Regions from separate parts of the Homo sapiens genome. Here region 1 is linked to region 2. Evidence: fine-mapped expression QTL. Tissue or cell type: whole blood. Region 2 holds a variant in brackets; the other region holds the start of a gene. All regions are shown on one strand. Distances are from middle to middle.

What was found. PIP is the estimated chance that this variant, and not a neighbour inherited with it, causes the effect.
Region 1: AGL starts here. The variant in region 2 is fine-mapped to the expression of AGL in whole blood (INTERVAL, PIP 0.91).

What each region holds. Positions count from the first base shown.
Region 1 is chr1:99,847,905-99,853,056 of GRCh38, forward strand. It overlaps AGL (amylo-alpha-1,6-glucosidase and 4-alpha-glucanotransferase), which reads left to right and starts at 2,457. Exons shown (of 34, transcript NM_000642.3): 1 at 2,457-2,511; 2 at 3,071-3,220. The coding sequence starts at 3,139. RefSeq lists enhancers at 1,603-2,577, 1,778-1,927, 2,578-3,551 and a silencer at 2,108-2,427.
Region 2 is chr1:99,893,635-99,898,781 of GRCh38, forward strand. AGL (amylo-alpha-1,6-glucosidase and 4-alpha-glucanotransferase) reads left to right here. Exons shown (of 34, transcript NM_000642.3): 25 at 2,652-2,754. Among named protein-coding and RNA genes, the nearest start is that of AGL, 46 kb to the left of the region's middle. The variant G/A (reference allele first, on the strand shown) is at 2,735.

The DNA of each region.
Region 1 (5,152 bases), 46 kb before region 2:
TGCACTTCAGCCTGGGTGACAATGAGACCCTGTCTCAAAAAGTAAAATAAAATAAAGTAACTTTTTCTATTGGTTATATGTTGAAATGATGCCTTGGATATATTAAGTAAATTATATTGCTAAAATTAATATTACCTTTTTCAAAACTTTCTTTTCTTTTCTTTTTTTTTTTTTTTTTTTTTTGAGACAGTCTCGCTCTGTCACCCAGGCTGAAGTGCAGTGACATGATCTGGGTTCACTGCAACTTCCACCTCCCAGGTTGAAGCGATTCTCCTGCCTCAGCCTCCACAGTAGTTGGGACTACAGGCATGTGCCACCATGCCTGGCTAATTTTTGTATTTAAAAAAGTTTTTTTAATGTGGCTACTTGAAAATTTTAAATGACCTATGTGGCACTTAATATTTCTATTGGACAGTGCTTTCTGCTCATTCAGGCCAAAAACCTTGGAGTCATCCTTGACTCCTTTCTCCACCAATCCTGTAGGTTCTATCTTCAAAATAGTCCAGAATTCAGCAACTACACCACCTGCTATACCACCTCCCCCCCATCACCCCCAACCCCCCGACACAGAGAAAACACACACAAGTCACTTTCTCTTGCTTGAATAACTAAAATAGCTTTCTAACTGGTCTCCTTGCTTCCTTCCTTGCTACACTCTACAGTTTATTCAACTATTTCCCATAAAGTTGCGGAGCGATCCTTTTAAAAGGTCAATCAGATTATGTCACTCCTCTGTTCAAAATCTCCATGGCTTTTTTTCCAAAGTTTAAAAGCCCAAGTCCTTGCAATGGCCTACAAAGCCTTAAAAGATCTGGTCACCCGTCTGTGCTCCTGATCCCTTCTCCTGCCCCATCTGTCTGTCCTAATCTCTTACCACTCTCTTCTTCACTCAGCTATGGTGATCTTCTTCGGTTCACCAAGTATGCTCCTGCCTCATGGCCTTTGTACTTCCTATACCTCTACATGTAACCCTCTACCTTAGACTTCTTCTTTCTCGCAGTTTGGCATCACTTTACTGAACGTTATATTTAGAAATGCAAACCTCTCTCTGCTTACTCTTCCACACTTCCCCCTTCCTATTATATATAGGATATAACATATCCTTCTTATTATATAGGATATATTATATCCTGTATAATTTATTTAATTTATCTGTCTCCCACCAATAAAATGTAGGAGTTCCTTGAGGGCAGTGACTGTTTTATTGCTGCATTCCCAGCACCTTATGTGCCTGGCAAATAGTAGGGGCCAGAAAATGAGCTGTGGGTTCCCAAAGTCAGTTACGGACCATTTGCAACTAGCCATTCTCAGAAATCTACAGAAATAAACAAATACTTCAGTATGGGGTTTTTTTTTTTAACTTATATCCTCTTTGGACCTACAGTCATTCCACAATAAAGAATGCAAGAATCTTCTCCACACGCCACAAGTCTTAGTTAACCAAATCTTCTGTCCATTTTCTCATAACCATTAGGAGCCCTCCAAAAGCCCTGGAAGATGGGTTTTCCTTTACCCTCAGGCATTAAATCTCCTTAAGCATCTGCAAAAAGTTCTGAGTTACTGGCCTAACATAAGTGCAGCTTAATCTCAGACGATCTCCGGGTCTATCTAGTGTACATGAGGTACACCCGGACACCGTTAAGTATCAGTGGTGTTTGCACTCTCGATGGTTTGCAGACTGGCCACACCTTACCTACTGGGTCTGCATTCAGGAACATGTGTCCTGTCTGTTAGCACTAGAAGTGATGGACACGTGTTGGCTGGAATGTCAAGGCTGTAGCCAGGCCCCTTATTTTAGACACTTAGAAATCAGGACTCTGAGAACTTAGGCCAAGTAAAAATTATCAAAACAAAGAAACAAAACACGTGGTGGCACAAAAGACACCAGAAGCCAGGTCGTTTGCCCCTCACCATTCAGCCCTTCCCAGCAAAAGATCCTACTGTGCAGCTCAACCTAGCTCGCAGCCGGTACCGCGGGATTTTAATGTGCAACTGTGAGCTCGCAGGCTGTTAAAGGAAGGCCGCGCCTTGGCCGGTGCACCTTCCCCAGGGCAAGGAGAAAGCGCCGCTCCCGGCCTCAGCCGCAGCAGGCTCCAGGTCCCCCGGCCCGGAGCCGACTGAGACGGTGCGGTGCCCACGCTCTCGCGAGACTAGCGGTCGGGGCGGGCGGGTCGAGCCTCCCGGAAGTGGGCCAGAGGTACGGTCCGCTCCCACCTGGGGCGAGTGCGCGCACGGCCAGGTTGGGTACCGGGTGCGCCCAGGAACCCGCGCGAGGCGAAGTCGCTGAGACTCTGCCTGCTTCTCACCCAGCTGCCTCGGCGCTGCCCCGGTCGCTCGCCGCCCCTCCCTTTGCCCTTCACGGCGCCCGGCCCTCCTTGGGCTGCGGCTTCTGTGCGAGGCTGGGCAGCCAGCCCTTCCCCTTCTGTTTCTCCCCGTCCCCTCCCCCCGACCGTAGCACCAGAGTCGCGGGTCCTGCAGTGCCCCAGAAGCCGCACGTATAACTCCCTCGGCGTAAGTGCTAGGAATGCCGCTGGCCTCGCGGGGAAACGCATTCTTTCTATCTATAGCTCGCTCTGTACATCTTCTGTCTACGGCAGCTATTCCAGAGGCAACAACTGCTTCCCTCTGTTCTCATCTCCCCATTGGTGGCTGGCGACCCGAATTTGGGAATGGGGAGATTGCCCACCTGTTATCTTTGAGCAGACTAATCTCTTGTAAGCAGAAGTGCCATTCGGAGTCTCCAGAGCCCTGTGGCTTGGGGCTGGGAATGTCCCCCTGACTTCAGGCTTTCCTAAGTGTATTGCTTTTCTCTGAGAATGGTCTAGGTTTTTAATTTTTTAATTGTAAGAATCTGTAATACAGCATTTTTATTTCGGTCTTATTCGTTGTGCTCAAAGGCAGGAAACAACTATTAATTTGCCTTCTCGAATCTTAATAGTTATAAGATTCATTCTCTTTCATTGCTCTGCTAGGCATAAAACACACTTCGAACATGTAAGTGCCGCTGTCAGCTCTGGAGAGTTTAAGGCAATAGTTATTTTCGATATTTTAACTCCTTTTTGTTTCATAGGGGTAACTCATTCGACTGTGGAGTTCTTTTAATTCTTATGAAAGATTTCAAATCCTCTAGAAGCCAAAATGGGACACAGTAAACAGATTCGAATTTTACTTCTGAACGAAATGGAGAAACTGGAAAAGACCCTCTTCAGACTTGAACAAGGTCAGTAGCAAGTTGTTTTGATTTGCTCATTTGCGTCTTTTAAACTTTTAATTCATTGGCAGTCCTGTTAAATGTTTTAAAGCTCTAAGATAAATATTATTTCCAAGGGTCTAAAACTTGATTTGTGCAAAGATGGTGCTGTGTTCTCCATATATCACTAATTAATGTTGATTTGAATTAAAAATATTTTATATCCCTCGTGTTAGGATAAGGATAAAATAGTTCTCTTTTCTCTGCGTACTAATTCCCACTTAAGATTGAAGTTAAATATATGATCAGAAGATTGCCCATATTATTTCTAATAACATTTACTATTAAAACTTGGTAAATTACTTCATATGTAATTTTGCTTTGGGTATGCATGTAGTTTTGCCTTTGTATAACTGTCTCTTTTCCTTTGTTGAACCTTTGAATTGACAAAATAGATTGCAGCAAAAAGTATAGTAAACTATTGTTTATGTATATCAAAAACTTCTCAAATGTGGAGTAGGTAAAAGCTGAAAATATTTTCTTAGCAAATAAAAAGTGCAATAACTCATCTGGTTATGTTGAACTATATATAGTTGATCTGTATTTAAAAGATCAAATTACTTTTCTACAAGGCTAGTTAATAGATGTTTTATTTTCTTAGCCTTTGTAATTTTTCAACATTGAAGAAGTGTAATATATGAAAAATCCAGTCCCCCTTATTAATGTACCAAATGGATGTTGCTAGTCATAAACATTTCAAAGGAATTTTTAAATTTCGCTAATGTTTTAAGAATTAAATTTTTGAAAAAAATTTCACACATACAATGTGATATCTTCATGCCAAATCCGCGCCTTTTTCCAACTTTGGCATTTAAAATCACTGAGTACCTACTCCATTTTTGGCTTTCCTGACTCTGCACTTTTCTGGTTTTGATTTTTTTTTCCCCCTCCCCTGTTGCATATTCTTGTCAACTTGGTGTCTCTTACTAGGCTCTCTTCCTTTCACTTTTTAATTAATTATGGGTATCTGCTAGGAATTCTTTTTCTGTTCTCCTTCAAAGAATTAGTTACACAGTCTCATGGCCTCAACTGTTGCCTCTGTGCTAATGACTACTTTTGGAGGAAAAGCCTTGAGCTTTCTTCTTCTTGGAAGCTTTCAGCATTTGATGACGGGTAGATCTAGAGCCAGAATTCTCCTGGCTCTGCTGCTAACAAGCTGACTTGGGGCAAGTTACATTAATTCTGAGCATTCATTTCTTTTTTTTTTTTTTTTTTTTTCCTTTTCTCTTTTTCTGAGACAGGGTCTTACTCTGTTGCCCAAGCTGAGTGTTGTGGCATGATCATGGCTCAGTGCTGCCTCAACTTCCTGGGCTCAAGCAGTTCTCCTGCCTCAGCCTCCCAAGTAGCTGGGACTGCAGGCATACATCACTATGCCCCGCTAATTTTTTTTTTTTTTTTTTTTGTAGAAACTGGGTCTCACTATGTTGCCCAGGTTGATATTGAACTCCTGGACTCAAGCAACCCTCCCTCTTTGGCCTCTGAAAGTACTGGGATTACAAGCATAAGCCACCGGGCATGGCCCCAATTCTGAGCATTAATTTATTTATTGGTGAGATGAAAGTGGTAATTTCTGTTCTTCTACCTTTCTAGGTTTTGAGACTCAAAATTAATAATACATGAATTTTTTGTGATAAAGCCCTAAATAAATATAAGGCATTGATATGAATCACTCCATGTATTCCCACCCTGGACCTTGGCTTCAACCTGATATTATGCAATAGAATAGTATTAGGATAGCTCAACTTGGATATGCTTAAATCTAGCATGTCCAAAAATATCCCCTGCCCATTCTCGATCCTTTATTTCTCAGCTTCCCTGTTTATTTCGTGGCATCTCCATTTTTATAGTTCCCAGGGTAGAAACCTTATATTCTTTGATGATTTCTTCTCTTTTCCTGCAGTC
Region 2 (5,147 bases):
ACACTTTAAACGATATACTGATATAAACTGTTACATCTGACATACTTCTCAGGTACGATATAAAACAAATAAAAACTAAAAAATTAAGTTGATAAACAAATACAAATAGAAGTGTGATATTTGCTCCTAGCATCCCAAGGGAATGTTTTGCCTATTCCATACTTGTAAAAAATAGGACTGTATTCAGATTTGCAGATAGGTTTTTTGGGGTTCATTTTAAACTGATTGGGGATGTCTTCCTTTGGTTATAGTATTGCAACAACAGCAATTAAAAACAATGGTTCATACCTGTAATCCCAACACTTTGGAAGGCTGAGGCAGGAGGATCGTTTGGGGCAGGGAGTTCAAGACCAGCCTGAACAACATAGCAAGACCCCATCTTTACCAAAAAAAAAAATTAAAAATTAGCCAGGCATGGTGGTATGTACCTGTAGTCCTAGCTACTCAGGAGGCTGGGGCAGGAGGATCCCTTGAGCCAAGGAGTTTGAGGCTGCAGTGAGCTATGATCACACCACTGCACTGCAGCCTGGGTGACAGAGGAGACCCTGTCTCAAAAAAAAAAAAAAATTTGTAGCCTGTTCTAATAATTGACAAATTAGAAATCACTTAGAAGATATGGAATCTATTAGTTGTGTACTCTTAGAGGTCAAAAAGTTAATACAAACATTTCCATACATAGTGCTAGAGATTTTATAGTTTTGACTTTTTCACAAAGACAGACCGCATATATTTTTGGATATACCGATTCAGACTCACCTTTGAATCTACCTGTATTCATGTTTCATACAAGGAATTAAATGGGTCAGAGTACCAGGAAGTGTGTATGGCACAGAGTGCTATATATATGTTAGCTGCTGTCATCACTATCATCAAAATTAATATCATGTATATATCAACCATATATAAACCATATTAATCATAAATAAATAATACACAGTGTATTTGGGGAAATTTTGTACCGTCATTTTGGAGACAACATAGGTAGGAAAAAGGTCTAATTCTTATCTTTCTTAATGGAAGAAACTAACATCTAATTCCCAATAAACAGAAACTTAAATTGTGAAGTACACTCAGGAATTGCCAAAACTTTCTTTTATCTTAGTCAAATTCTTTCACTTTTCGATCTACATTTTAATATTTGTTTTTTATTTCAGTCATCAAATATTTATAGGTATATATTATATACAGTTACAATTTTCAATGAATACATACTTGTTGGTGAACAAGGTAGATGAGGTTTCTACTCATAGGTCTTATTTCCTACTGGGAAGATATATGCATTCAACAGATAGCAAACAAGATAATTTTCAGATAGCGTTAAGTGCTTTTAAGATAGTTATAAGTGAATGCTGTGTATATTTTATTTGTCCTCAGTTTCCCCTAACCAAAATATGTGTTATATTTATGCTTTGGCATAATTTTTTTTCTTTTGAGACAGAGTTTCGCTCTTTTTGCCCAGGCTGGAGTACAATAGCGTGATCTCGGCTCACTGCAACCTCCGCTTCCTGGGTTCAAGCAATTCTCCTGCCTCAGCCACCCAAGCAGCTGGGATTACAGGCACCCACTACCACGCCTGGCTAATTTTTTGTATTTTTAGTGGAGATGGGGTTTCACCATGTTGGCCAGGATGGTCTCGAATTCCTGACCTTACTGTTTTATAAGAAACCAAACTCAATCTTTAAGTAAAATTTTAGATTGCACCATTAATCATACTATTTTATCTTGTATATAAAACCTCCAATTACCTAGAATGAAGGATTTAATGTGCCAGATAACTTGAAGTGACAAGTAAAATTGTACATATTGTGTACAGAATATAACACTTTTAAGTTGTTTTAAATTAGTGGGAAATTTGATAATGTTGACTCAAGTGCTCAAATGTTGACTCCATATACTTAATTAGGTATCATTAAGGTAATAATTTCATGTTTAGGTTTATTTATTGTCCTTAAGTTCAAGGTAGAGTCTTTTTAAATATATAATTAATATTTAGTGTTTATGTGTTAAATATTTGATCTCTGATTTTACTCTTTAGATTTAATTTATAAAAGAAAGTTTGGCCAGGTACAGTGGCTCCTGCCTGTAATCCTAGCACTTTGGGAAAGCAAGTTGGGCAGATCACTTGAGCTCAGGAGTTCAAGACCAGCCTAGGCAACCTGGCAAAACCTCATTCTCTACAAAAAATACAAAAACTAGCCAGGCATGGTGGTGTCTACCTGTAGTCTCAGCTACTTGGGAGGCTGAGGTGGGAGGATGGCTTGAGCCTGGGAGGTGGAGGTTACAGTGACGCAAGACTGTGCCACTGCACTCCAGCCTGGACAACAGAGCCAGACCCTCTCTCAGAAAGAAGAAAAGTTTATCTGTGTATTCACACCTCAATTTAGATAAGTATCTCTCTATAGCTCTGGTTCTTAATCTTCTTTAGGTCATAGGTTCCTTTAGGAATCTGACAAGATAATGGAATCTCATTTGACAGAAGTTAACATAAGTATAGACATACATTTTGCAAATAATTTTAGAGGGTTTTAGAGGATTTGCAGGTGCCTGCCTTGTACCCCAGGTTTAGAGTAACTGTTCTATAGTAATGGAGTTCATAGGTTTGTGTGTATTATTATGATTAACATATTACTTTGTTGTGTTTTTTTTGTTAGGCTTACCTCATTTTTCTTCTGGTATTTTCCGCTGCTGGGGAAGGGATACTTTTATTGCACTTAGAGGTATACTGCTGATTACT[G/A]GACGCTATGTAGAAGCCAGGTAGGAGAGCCTCTAAAGTGTTGTACTGCGAGTTTATGTCTGAATGTCTTTTACATGCTCTTCAAACTTTCCTTCTTGTCCATCTTTTCTTAACATTTGGGAGCTGTATTTTCTTTAGGTAGTTTTTATTTTATTTTTGTATGTTCACTTAATAGGATCATAAAATTTCAAAGGGGTGAAAATCTTTGAAGTCACTAAGTTCTAGTCCTTCATATTACAAGTCAGGTTATCTTTAGCATTAGCTAATTTATTTCAACAAAACTAAAAATGTTATAACCTTTTTATGCCTTCCATAGTGAAGGCATTGCTAGTTCTTTGTCTGAGTCTTGTAGAAGTCTTGATGTTTCCCTCTATTTGTTGTCAAGCCTTGTAACCTCCAGTTTTATGTTTTCTAGACTTAAAATGGTTTTTTTTGTTTTTGTTTTTTGTTTTTTGTTTTTGAGACAGAGTCTCGCACTGTCGTCCGGGCTGGAGTGCAGCGGCACAGTCTCGGCTCACTGCAACCTCCGACTCCGCCTCCCGGGTTGAAGCCATTCTGCTGCCTCAGCCTCCTGAGTAGCTGAGATTACAGGCGCCCGCCACCACGCCCAGCTAATTTTTGTATTTCTAGTAGAGACGGGGTTTCACCGTGTTGGTCAGGCTGGTCTTGAACTCCCGACCTTGTGATTTGCCTGCCTCGGCCTCCCGAAGTGCTGGGATTACAGGCGTGAGCCACCGTGCCCGGCCGTAAAATGGTATTTTTTTTAATGTCACAATAATATGAATGAACTTATTGGAGGTCGAAAGGAAAGCACTACAGCAGTGCCACTCAAAATGCATTCCACACATCAGTAGTGTCACCCTCACCTGAGAGCTTGTTAGAAATGCAGATTCTTGGACCCTATGCCAAACCTCCCAAATCCAAACCTGGACATAGAGAGAGTAGGGTTGGTGGGCAGAAATCTGTGTTTTCACAAGGTCTCTGGATGATTATCAACAGTCTAAGGCTGAAGTTTGAAAGCACTGCTCTAAAAGATAAAACTTTCAGCAAAAGGGCATTTATACGATACCTTGTTTTGATGCCATCAGGAAAATAACTGAAGTTTGCATCTTTACATGCCAAAATTTTATTTTTGATACTTTTAAAACTGAAGTTTTTAGGTGGGCATCTGAAATGAATTGCATTTTTGTTAATCCGATATATAGTAAGACCTTTTTGTATTACCATTATGGAGCTATAGAAATTTAGGAAGCTGTTTGCTTCTTCCCTAAATGCTCCTGAATTACTGATTTAGAAGAAGGAAATGGAACATCAGCATTCAGCATAGTATAGTGGTTAAGAACTTCGGCTTTACACCAGACTGCCAGCTTCTAATCCTGGTTCCAAACTACCAACTGACAAATTACCTTACTGGGTACTTGGGAGGATCAAATGAACACATACAGTTAAGGTGCCTAGAGTAATATCTGCCACATGCCTAGAGTAATATCTGCCACATGCTAAACAGTTCATAAATGTTAGTTTTTATCATTATTAATGTTTAGGCTCCCAATTATCACCTCTATGCAATATCACAAATTTGTGCTGCTTAATTTTACATAGAACTGTCTAGATTATTGGTTAGCAAACTGTGGCCTATCACCTGTTTTGTATGGCCTATGAGCAAAGAATAGCTTTTACCTTTTTTTTTTTTTTTGAGACGGAGTCTTGCTCTGTCACTCAGGCTGGAGTGCAGTGGCGCAATCTCCGCTCACTGCAAGCTCCGCCTCCCGGGTTCATGCCATTCTTCTGCCTCAGCCTCCTGAGTAGCTGGGACTACAGGCGCCCGCCACCACACCCGGCTAATTTTTTGTATTTTTAGTAGAGACCGGGTTTCACCATGTTAGCCAGGATGGTCTCGATATCCTGACCTTATGATCCGCCTGCCTCATCCTCCCAAAGTGCTGGGATTACAGGCGTGAGCCACTGCGCCCTACCAGAATAGCTTTTACCTTTTTCTTTTTAAAGGGTCATTTAAAAGAAGAAAGCATGTGCAACAGAATTCATATATGTCCCACAAAGCCTAAAATACTTAGTATATGGCCCTTTATAGAAAAGGTTTGCCTACCCCGATCTAGAGGTGATTCCCAGAGAATAATATATTATCCCAGAGGGTATTTGTTAGGGTAGTGCTAGCTGCCATAAATTATAAACACTTAAAATCTTAATGGCTTTTCACAAATAAAATTTATTTCTTGCTTGTAGTCGTAGACGCATGCTCAGTAAGCAGCCTTCTATATACTGATTCAGGGAAGCAGGTTTCTTCCAGCTTGAGGATCTGTCAGTTTCCATGGCTTCTGGGGCCTCTCCAGGAGGCAAGCAGAGAGGGAAAGAGAGCTGGGGGAACACACCTATTCTCCATACACTTAACATG